Regions from separate parts of the Homo sapiens genome. Here region 1 is linked to region 2. The links come from fine-mapping of genetic effects on gene expression. A gene starts in region 2. The other region holds a variant in brackets. All regions are shown on one strand. Distances are between the middles of the regions. Region 1 overlaps CDC42 (cell division cycle 42). Region 2 holds the start of LINC00339 (long intergenic non-protein coding RNA 339).

What was found.
Region 1: its variant is fine-mapped to the expression of LINC00339 in NK cells (Gilchrist 2021, PIP 0.95).

What each region holds. Positions count from the first base shown.
Region 1 is chr1:22,091,677-22,096,676 of GRCh38, forward strand. CDC42 (cell division cycle 42) reads left to right here. Exons shown (of 6, transcript NM_001791.4): 6 at 1-5,000. Among named protein-coding and RNA genes, the nearest start is that of CDC42, 41 kb to the left of the region's middle. The variant C/A (reference allele first, on the strand shown) is at 2,271.
Region 2 is chr1:22,023,046-22,028,565 of GRCh38, forward strand. LINC00339 (long intergenic non-protein coding RNA 339) reads left to right here and starts at 2,146. Exons shown (of 2, transcript NR_023918.2): 1 at 2,146-2,327. It overlaps LINC01635 (long intergenic non-protein coding RNA 1635), which reads right to left and starts at 3,003. Exons shown (of 3, transcript NR_110692.1): 1 at 2,919-3,003; 2 at 1,761-1,921; 3 at 949-1,400. RefSeq lists enhancers at 2,431-3,032, 2,644-2,753, 2,831-3,125.

The DNA of each region.
Region 1 (5,000 bases), 68 kb after region 2:
ATGGCCCCCCCCTTCCCCCTCCCAGTACTAGTTAATTTTGAGTAATTGTATTGTCAGAAAAGTGATTAGTACTATTTTTTTTTGTTGTTTCAAAAAAAAAATTTTTGTGTGTGTGTGTTTTTTTTTTTTTTTTTTTTGTTGTTTAAAAGCAAGGCATGCTTGTGGATGACTCTGTAACAGACTAATTGGAATTGTTGAAGCTGCTCCCTGGTTCCACTCTGGAGAGTAATCTGGGACATCTTAGTGTTTTGTTTTGTTTTTTTCCCTCCTCTTTTTTTTGGGGGGGAGTGTGTGTGGGGTTTGTTTTTTAGTCTTGTTTTTTTAATTCATTAACCAGTGGTTAGCCCTTAAGGGGAGGAGGACGGATTGATTCCACATTCCACTTCCTAGATCTAGTTTAGAAAACATGTTCCCCATCTGGTGCTCTTAGGAAGGAGTATAGTAAATGCCTCATTTAATAACATACTCCTTTTTGAAAGTTGCCTTTTCTCTCCACCCTTGAGTAGATCCAGTATTTGATGAAACTCATGAAAGTGGGTGGAGCCCATCTTGCCCCTCCTCTTTTCTAGGACGCACTATATGTGACTGTGACTTTCAAGGACATTTGTTTGCCATTTGCTGATTTTTTTGGGAAGTTAATTTCTAACTTCTTTCACTGATAAATGAAGAAAAGTATTGCACCTTTGAAATGCACCAAATGAATTGAGTTTGTAATTAAAAAAATTTTTTTCCCTTTCAGTCATTGTCTTATATGCTTAGCATAGATTTGCAGCTCAGTAGTATATGGTGTTCCTAGAATGCAGCTGAAGACCTGTTATGTAGAGGAAATACGAGGGGTGGTGCTAGAAGACAGACATCTGTGGAATGATTCACATCCTCTCAAGTTAGGAGGATGGAGGCCTGCTTCATTAAGAAGCTGGGGGTAGGGTGGGGGTGGGGAGAACACTTAACAACATGGGGACCAGTCAGGGGAATCCCCTTATTTCTGTTTTGCATATGAGGAACCCTAGAGCAGCCAGGTGAGGCTCTCTAGTTTAATAAAAATCATGGAAAGACTCTTAATGCAGACTCTTCTTAAGTGTTAATAGGGATTTTTTCAGCTTATTTTGGTTGCAGTTTCCAATTTTTAAAAATGTTGAGGTAATCTTTCCCACCTTCCCAAACCTAATTCTTGTAGATGCATTAGTGTTGAACCAATGCTTTCTCATGTCTCAATTCTTTGTATATGCATTCTTTTCAGATGTATTAAACAAACAAAAACCCTTCACAAGCCAGCCTGAGGGTTGTTATTTTCCCTCCGTCTCTTACTTTTCAGATATTGAGGAGTGGGAATTTGACTCTTGATAACATCAATTTCTAACAAACTTTGGGATAAAATTTTAAAGCTTTATTATTTTTATTTTCTGGCATTTTAGTTTGAGATAATATTTAGCCCTCTATATGTTCAGGTTTGTGCTTTCTCCTCTAAGTTTGACCCTTCCCTTAAATACCAAGTAGGTCCATAATAATTCTTAGTGAAGCAGTGTTCAGGAAGCTCACTGCTCATGGTGGAAGGAAATGTCAGTGTACCTTTAATCCATAGATCATTGAAAAGCAGCTCATTTTCCCCCAAGTTTTCTGCATCAGTGGTTCTCCAACTGGAGTGCAGCTTGAACAATGTGATTTTTAAGTTTTCCAGGCATTTCTAAAATGTAGCCAAGTTTGGGAATCACCACACCTAGTTGGTTATCTCAAACTACTACTATCAGAATACAGGTTCTGTGCTGCGAATCTGAATATGGGATACATTTTCTTTAGGTAGCAAGAAAGGTTTATTTACCTTTAGGACATTATACTGATCTGCATGAGAATCTTAGAAACTAAGAACCCTTAAAATCAGTTAAGGTTGGTACACTGTGGCCTCATTTTGATAGTTCTCTGCATGGAGTCATGTTTGGCATGATTTGCATACTGTGCTAGAATTAAGCTGGGTTGGTTGAGAAGGGGTTAGGAAGAGGCAGATGTAAGCTTTAACAGTTCTAACCAAGAAATGCATCTTATTTATTCCTTGTTGACTATACTAGGGAGAGATACCTGGATCATGTGATACCCTGGAAAGCAGGGACATATGTATCCTTAGTGTAGTCAGGGGCGTATAGGTCCTTGACTATTGCTATATCTTTGTCCTAAAGCAATGCTTGACATGATATGGCTCTAGAAGTAGTCATTGGATGGGTATATTATTTTATAAATGAGTAAGTGAAATAAAGCAGGTCATACAGTTGTGTCAA[C/A]GAATTATCCGTGTATCAGAAGAACAAGGATGATGGGGATTGATTGAAGCTAATGTTTTCTTAAATATTTTCAGATTGATTTCTGCATGTCAGAAGAACTTGGGTAGCAAGTGGATGCAGCTTAGGTTTTCCATTTAAATATTGTTTTCTATTTGACGTAACAAACTTGCTTATAGTCGTGGCTTAGAAGGTGAGTGATATTCTCCAGGGAGTATGATTTAGAGGCTGGAAAGGGTTATTGAAAATAGTCCTTACAGGCTTAGTTTGTGTCAGAATTTATAGTATTTAATACGATGTTAATATATTATTGCTATTTATAAGTGTTTTACTGAACATCCTAGAAATAGATTTTTTTTTTTTTTTTTTTTTGAGACGGAGTCTCGCTCTGTCGCCCAGGCTGGAGTGCAGTGGCGCGATCTCGGCTCACTGCAAGCTCCGCCTCCCGGGTTCACGCCATTCTCCTGCCTCAGCCTCCCGAGTAGCTGGGACTACCGGCGCCCGCTACCACGCCCGGCTAATTTTTTGTATTTTTAGTAGAGACGGGGTTTCACCGTGTTAGCCAGAATGGTCTCGATCTCCTGACCTCGTGATCCGCCCGCCTCGGCCTCCCAAAGTGCTGGGATTACAGGCGTGAGCCACCGCGCCCGGCCAGAAATAGATTTTATAGTTAAAGCGATGTTCTTCAAGCTGGACTTTATGCCACAAGGGGAGTGTATTCTAAAGGGGAAGAAAAGGATTGTGGTTTAAAAGAACAATTGTAATATTTCCTTCATTCTGAGGTGTATTTTTCTCACATTTTCATATTGTAATTAGGATACCTGTTAACATTGGTGTACATTTAATGTAGTAGTACTTTTTCTCCTTTTGCCCTGCAAGTTGTCACTAAATTTGTGCTATCATAATTGTTACCTTCATAGAATGCTTAAATAGTGGTACTTCTTTGACTTGTTAGGTTTGGACTATTTTCCTTTTCTTCTTCCATTTGTGAGGTAAATTAGTGGTTATTTTGGTGCTGGGTGCTAAGAAACTCGCAAAACAAGGGCCCTGCTCAAGAAGGATTGAAACTTAGTCCTTGCTGGGTACAAATTTAGAAATTTGTTATATAACTGTGGGGCAAGGGACAACATTTCACCAGGAAGTAGCAACTCCATCATCTTTCAGGAAGGGCTGATGGTTAGGGCATCTCTGAATGATTATTGGAGGGAAGTGGCTTTATGTCACACTTGTTTTCTGTAAGTCTTACTCTGTATCTACCCGACTTCAGATCATGGTGATTTAATTACATGGCCCAATCATGTTTTCTTTCCAGGGCTGCTTGAATGCTTGAATACTTTTTTTTTTGAGATGGAGTCTCGTTCTGTCGCCCAGGCTGGAGTGCAGTGGTGCAATCTCGGCTCATTGCAAGCTCCGCCTCCCGGGTTCACACCATTCTCCTGCCTCAGCCTCCCGAGTAGCCAGGACTACAGGCATGTGCCACCATGCCTGGCTAATGTTTTGTATTTTTAGTAGAGATAGGGTTTCACCATGTTAGCCAGGATGGTCTCGATCTCCTGACCTCGTGATCCGCCCGCCTTGGCCTCCCAAAGTGCTAGGATTACAGGCGTGAGCCACCGCGCCTGGCCAGAATGAATACTTTTAATTACTACTATGAGTCTTTTTTCAAAGTGCCTCCACCTTAAAAAAAATTCCTTATTTTATTCACTTGCCAGAATAATGTTGCATTTGAACCATGCCAACGGTAGCTTATTAAAACAGCATTTATTTTTCTCATTCATGGGTCAGCTGAACTTGTCTCTAGCCTTCAGATTGGGCTCAGGTGGGCTTTGTGTTTGTCATTCTGGAGCCTAGTTCCAGAGAGCAGTGGCTGCTTGAGTGTGGACTTGCTTATGGTGGGCCAAAGAGGGGCAAGGGAAAGCGCATTTACACTTTCTCGTATTCCATTGCCCAGAGATGGCATATAGCCGATCCCAAGTCAGTGCTATTCATTCATTTTTTTAAAAAAATTTATTTATTTATTTATTTATTTATTTTCAGACGGGGTCTTGCACTGTTGCCCGGGCTGGAGTGCAGTGGTGGCATCTCCGCTCACTGCAACCTCCACCTCCCAGGTTCACATGATTCTCCTGCCTCAGCCTCCTGAGTAGCTGGGATTACAGGTGTCTGCCACTGCGCCCGGCTAATTTTTTGTATTTTTAAGGGAGACTGGGTGTCACTATGTTGGCCAGACAGATCTCAAACTCCTGACCTCCTGATCCGCCCTCCTCAGCCTCCCAAAGTGCTGGGATTATAGGCATGAGTCACTGCGCCCGGCCTATTCATTCATTCTTACAGTGAATTAGTAAATTCAACAAATAGGTTTTTTTAAAGCAATTAAGGCACTGAGGATATACAGAGAGTAAAATAGATGTCTCCTGACTTCTACTTGGAATTTTCTTTCCCTTACAGTTTTGATAGCTGCTTTCTCTTGAATAACTATGTCATCTCTTTCCACTTTGCATTGCTCCCAAGAGAGTAATGTAAAAGTTTTATCTGTGCATGCATATTCATGACACATTCATTTGTCATTATTTATCAAAAACCTGTTCCCTTCCCTGGCACTGGAGACATTGGAGAATGACAGTCTCAAGCAGTGCAGAGATGTAAGCAGGCAGAGGTAAGGACTTTGGTCTCAATAGCCTACAGGGTGCTTCATCCACTCACTGTATTCTGTGTGCCTGTGCCGCGGTGCAG
Region 2 (5,520 bases):
ATGAGATAGAAAATAACTAGGTAATCACAAAAACAAAGTAACAGGTTATAAAGGAATTGGAAGGGTGCCCGGGGTCGGGGGATAGAGGAGGTGGGCAGAAAAGGAGACGCTACAGTTGAACTGGAACCTGGGTGAACAGATCTCAGGAAAGAGCACTGCAAGCAGAGATCAGCAAAAGAAGTGAAGATGAGGCCGGGTGCGATGGCTCACGCCTGTAATCCCAGCACTTTGGGAAGCCGAGGTGGGTGGATCGCTTGAGGTCAGGAGTTCGAGACCAGCCTGGGGAACATGGCAAAACCCTGTCTCTACTAAAAATACAAAAATTAGCTGGACAGGGTGGTGCAAGTCTGTAATCTGAACTACTTGGGAGGCTAAGGCAAGAGAATCACTTCAACCCAGGAGGTGGAAGTTGCAGTGAGCTGAGATCATGCCACTGCATTCCAGCCTGGGTGACAGAATGAGACTCTGCCTCAAAAAAAGGCTGGGCGTGGTGGCTCACACCTGTAATCCCAGCACTTTGGGAGGCTGAGGTGGGCGGATCACCTGAGGTCAGGAGTTCGAGACCAGCCTGGCCAATATGGCGAAACCCCGTCTCTACTAAAAGTACAAAAAATTAGCCGGGTGTGGTGGCTCGTGCCTGTAATCCCAGTTACTCGGGAGGCTGAGGCAGGAGAATCGCTTGAATCCGGGAGGCAGAGGTTGCAGTGAGTCGAGATCACACCATTGCACTCCAGCTTAGACAACAAGAGCGAAACTCCGTCTCAAAAAAAAAAAAAAAAAAAAAAAAGAAGTGAAGATGAGCTTGTCAGATTGTCAGATTTGCAAAATAGCCAGAAGGTCAGTGTTCTTGGAGCAAACTGAGTGAGCAGGAGGGTGGGGAAAGATGAAGCACAAAGGCTGAATTTTACCTGGGATGATAAAATAATCTTACACAAGCCGAAACGTATATACTTTCACATAAATTTATGTGCCTATGAAATTGGAGTTGCTCTGGGACTCAAGCGGCATCCTTGCCCCAACCCCTGCTGTTTTCTGAAGCATTCCTAAGGAACCTTAGAGTGTGGGAGAGAGAAATAGCAGGAAGTCCTTAACCTAGTCCAACCCTTTTATTTTACAGTTAGGGAAACCTAAGCTGAGAGAGGAGATGGAAACCTGGTTGTAGGAGTGAGTGGGGAAGGGTTCACGGTCATTCTGGTAGGTAGGGGTAGGGCCAGAGCAAGGAGTCCTGGTTTGTGAACCACCAGCTGGCCGTCTAGGAGTTTACAGACCAGCAGTGGCAATGTTGACAAAGGGCATATCTTCCTTTCCCCAAGAACATTGGCTCTGGAGCAATAACCCAGCAATGGGGGCTTTGGGGTGTCCCTCTTAATCCGGTAGCTCAGCCCATTCGGATATGCCAGCTGGAAAGAGAGAGGGAGAAGTCAACTGAGTACCTCTCTCTAACAGCTCAATCCCTCCCCTTCAGGGTTAAGATCGGGGCTGCAGTGGTTAGCATCTCTGCTTCCTCTAGCCGGCTGTGTCATTGAACCTGTGTGATCAGACGCAAACCAGATCAGTATGACTTCAAAGCTTCATCTTTGAGATGGAGTCTTGCTCCCTCGTCCGGGCTGGAGTGCAATGGCGCAATCTCGGCTCACTGCAACCTCCGCCTCCCGGGTTCAAGCAATTCTCCTGTCTCAGTCTCCCGAGCAGCTGGGACTATAGGCGCCTGCCAGCACGCCCGGCTAATTTTTGTATTTTTAGTAAAGACTGAGTTTCACCTTGTTGGTCAAGCTGGTCTCGAACTCGTGACCTCAGGTGATCCACACGCCTCTGCCTCCTAAAGTGCTGGGATTACAGGCGTGAGCCACCGCGCACGGCTAAAGCTTCAGTTCTTAACCATCAGGCGACAGTGCGTAGTCTGGTAGCAACTGGAAAAGTCCTGCTGAGATTTAGCCTCCCATACACACAGAGTCCCACCCCGGACAGGCTGTATCAACCCCCCACGGCCATATGCCCACTGCTGTTTGCGTACAATGAGGCGGGACCTATAGACTGTATCCACTGACTCATCTGGAGTGATTCCGCGGGGCGCCAATACAAGGACCACTGTCTCCAAACAGCAGCCAGCCACCCCTCTCTCTTGGTTTCCTTCCTTTGAGTGGTGCAAAGGCTTAAGGGTGTAACCTCAGAATGGGGCCCTGAATCAGCTGTGGGCGAGCTCCTAGAGTATCTTAATTCCTGCTTCATCTCTTTCCATTTTGCAGTTGGGCAAACTGCGGCTCAGAAAGATAAAGAACTTCTCCGGAGCGAAAAAGCTGCTAAGAATGTATCCAAAACTCCGCACGGTAAGGACTGAGGACGGTCAAAAGACCACCAAGAGTTAAAACCATGAAGCTGCGTAGTACCGCGGAGGCTAGAGAGACCCGGCCCACCCCTTCCAACCTATGCCCCTCCTCTTAACTTCCGGGCGGGGCATGACTTCCGGTTCCCGCGCGGCGCTCCAAAGCTCGGGGAGTGGTGGTCTCCCTTTCCTGGAGTCATTTGTGGGAGTTAGGGTCTTATCCTGATCTTTCCTCGTCCCCCGCTCCCCCGTCCTCCGAGGTGGCAGCTGCGTAGGTGAACGTTCCCCCTGTCCCCTTCCTTCTCCTTCCTAACCCGAGTACGCTTGCTCGCGGCCACAGTGGCTGCCTGCCCCAGGAGCGGGGAGTCCCTGCCTTTGGGGTAGGGAAATGACTGAAATGTGGGACCTGCGGGCTCCTCGGGCTGACTTGGACCTCACTGCAGCTCTGGAGGTGGACCTCGTCCTGGGACCCTAGAAGCCCATTTCCGCACTCGGGCTAGGCCTTCGGAGCCGCGGCAGCATAGTGGGAGGAGTCGGGCTCAGCTCCCCCCCACCACAACCGGGATTATTTTTATCGGTTGAGTCATCGCACTACCTTTCATCCTTGTGGCTTTGGGCAAGTCCCCGCCCTCCGAGCCTCACTTTGCTTATCTGTGAATGGAAATAACAGTGCCTACCCCATGGGCTATCGGGAGGATCAGTTGTGAGGGAATGCAGTGTGGGGTGTCTGGCCGGCAGAATTCCACAAATGGTAGCAGCGGTTGATGTCACTGGAGGTTCCTGGGGCAGTAATTTATCAAGAGTTTATGATCCTGAACTAAGGATCATACGGAGGAGGATCTGTGTATAACGTTCGGCACAATGTTAGATAGGAAGTAAGGGCGCAGTGCACTGGAGTTATTTTTTCTTTTTTTTTTTTTTGAGACGGAGTCTCGCTCTGTCGCCCAGGCCGGAGTTGCAGTGCCGCGTTGTCGCCTCACTGCAACCTTCTCTGCCACATGGGTTCAAGCGATTCTCCTGCCTCAGCCACTCGAGTAACTGGGATTACAGTCGCACATCACCACGCCTGGCTAATGTTTTGCATTTTTAATAGAGACGGTTTCACCATGTTGGCCAGCCTGGTCTTGAACTCCTGATCTCAGGTGATCCACCCGCCTCGGCCTTCCAAAGTGCTAGAAGTATAGGCATGAGCCACTGTGCCTGGCCTGGAGTTATTTTTTCTCACTGGGTTTTTGAGCAAAGAAAAGGAGTTATTAACTGGTGAGGATAAATTTGTGTTTGGTAAGTCGTCTTCTGAAGCTGACAGGATTTATAAGCCGGGTAAATTGTGGTGCTGGTTCATCTTTGAGAGCCAGCCTTAAGAATTGGCCCACTGACTGCTGGGCGTGGTGGCTCACATCTGTAATCCCAGCACTTTGGGAGGCCGAAGCGGGTGGATCACCCGAAGTCAGGAGTTCGAGACCAGCCTGGTCAACATGGTGAAACCCCATCTCTACTAAAAACATAAAAATTAGCCAGGTATGGTGGTGGGCACCTGTAATCCCAGTTACTCGGGAGGCTGAGGCAGAGAATTGCTTGAACCCAGAAGGAGGAAAGGTTGCAGTGAACCGAGATCACACTACTGCACTCCAGCCTGAGCGACAGAGTGAGACTTGTCTCAAAAAAAAAAAAAAGGAAAGAAAAAGGCCCACTGACAGTCTGTTCCTAGAAACCTGGGTTGTAAAGACGTTGGGTGCTGGGAGCTAGAAGAAGTAATAAAAGGGTGTTTTCCTAAGTGGGTTAGGGGTTTTCACTCAGAAAGGTTTTTGGGCAGGAGGGGAAAGCCTGAGAAGTTTTCTTCCTCTTGAGTTGTTATAAAAGTAATACATGTGTGTAGTTAGAAAACAATGCAGAAAGATGTAAAATGAAAAGTGTTTCCCCCTTCTACTGTTTCTGCCCTTCAGAAGTAAATACAATTAATTTCTTTGATAACTTTCTATCTATTATTTGGATATATCAGGTTTTATTTATTTGTATCTGTATTTATGTATTTTTAATTTCCTCAGATCGGGGGTCATACTACACATCGATCGGGACCTTAGTCATGTTGTGATATGGACAGCTTTCTTACCAGTACTCATAAGCCTGCTTCATTTTTTACGTGGCGGCACCACTGAGTGGTTGACGGTACTTCAGTCATTTCCCTGTTGATGGTCACTTAGGTTGTTCCCAAGATTTTGCTTTCCCACAGTGTTTCACCCAACCTTTCTTGGACGAAATATTTTAGTCCAACTCACCCTAAGTGATTCTGCTTTTCCCTATTCACCACCCTAGGTTAGTAACAGCTTACTTTGGGGGATGAGCACACCTTATTAACTGAGCAAAAACCAAGATAATGTGAGAAGAATTGGTGTACTCCCAAGAATATCCAAGGTGCTGGGTCTAGAATCAATTAAAGTCTCCTAAGAAATGGGTCAGGGAACCTTTAGAGAAGGGATGACTAGGTGCTGGGTGCACGGCAGCTAGTCAGCGTTAGTGATTGTTGGCTTCTGTCAATTGTTGCTCAGGAAACAGATTTGAGAGATTCTCTGAGGTGGGAAGGATTTTAAATGTCAGCTCTCCTGCTATGTATTATATGTCTGGAAGGGATTAGTTCTTTGAGGGAAGAGAGTATTAAAGAAAACAATGGGCCGGGCACGGTGGCTCACACCTGTAATCCCAGCACTTTGGGAGGCCGAGGCAAGGGCGGTGGATCATGAGGTCAGGAGATCGAGACCATCCTGGCTAACATGGTGAAACCTCATTTCTACTAAAAATACAAAAAAAAATTAGCTGGGCCTGGTGGCACGTGCCGTAGTCCCAGCTACTCAGGAGGCTGAGGCAGGAGGATTGCTTGAACCTGGGAGGCAGAGGTTGCAGTGAGCCGAGATTGTGCCTGGGCAACAGAGCAAGACTCCGTCTCAAAAAAAAAAAAAAAAAAAAGAAAATGATGATCCTTGAAAAGTGACTGCATCATGGGGCTGTATCCTAATGTGAGAATTAATTTAGTCATTTCTGTTATTTGAACTCTCTTGTTTTAAAGTTAATTAACATAGGATGTGTTTTCCTGTAAATAACTCCTCTTTTGAACTGGGGCCCTAGCCCAAATGAAGCAAAGGCTTTTTTTCTGGCATTTTACAGGTATTTAATTTGCCTCCCGCCCCGCCGCCCCCCACGGC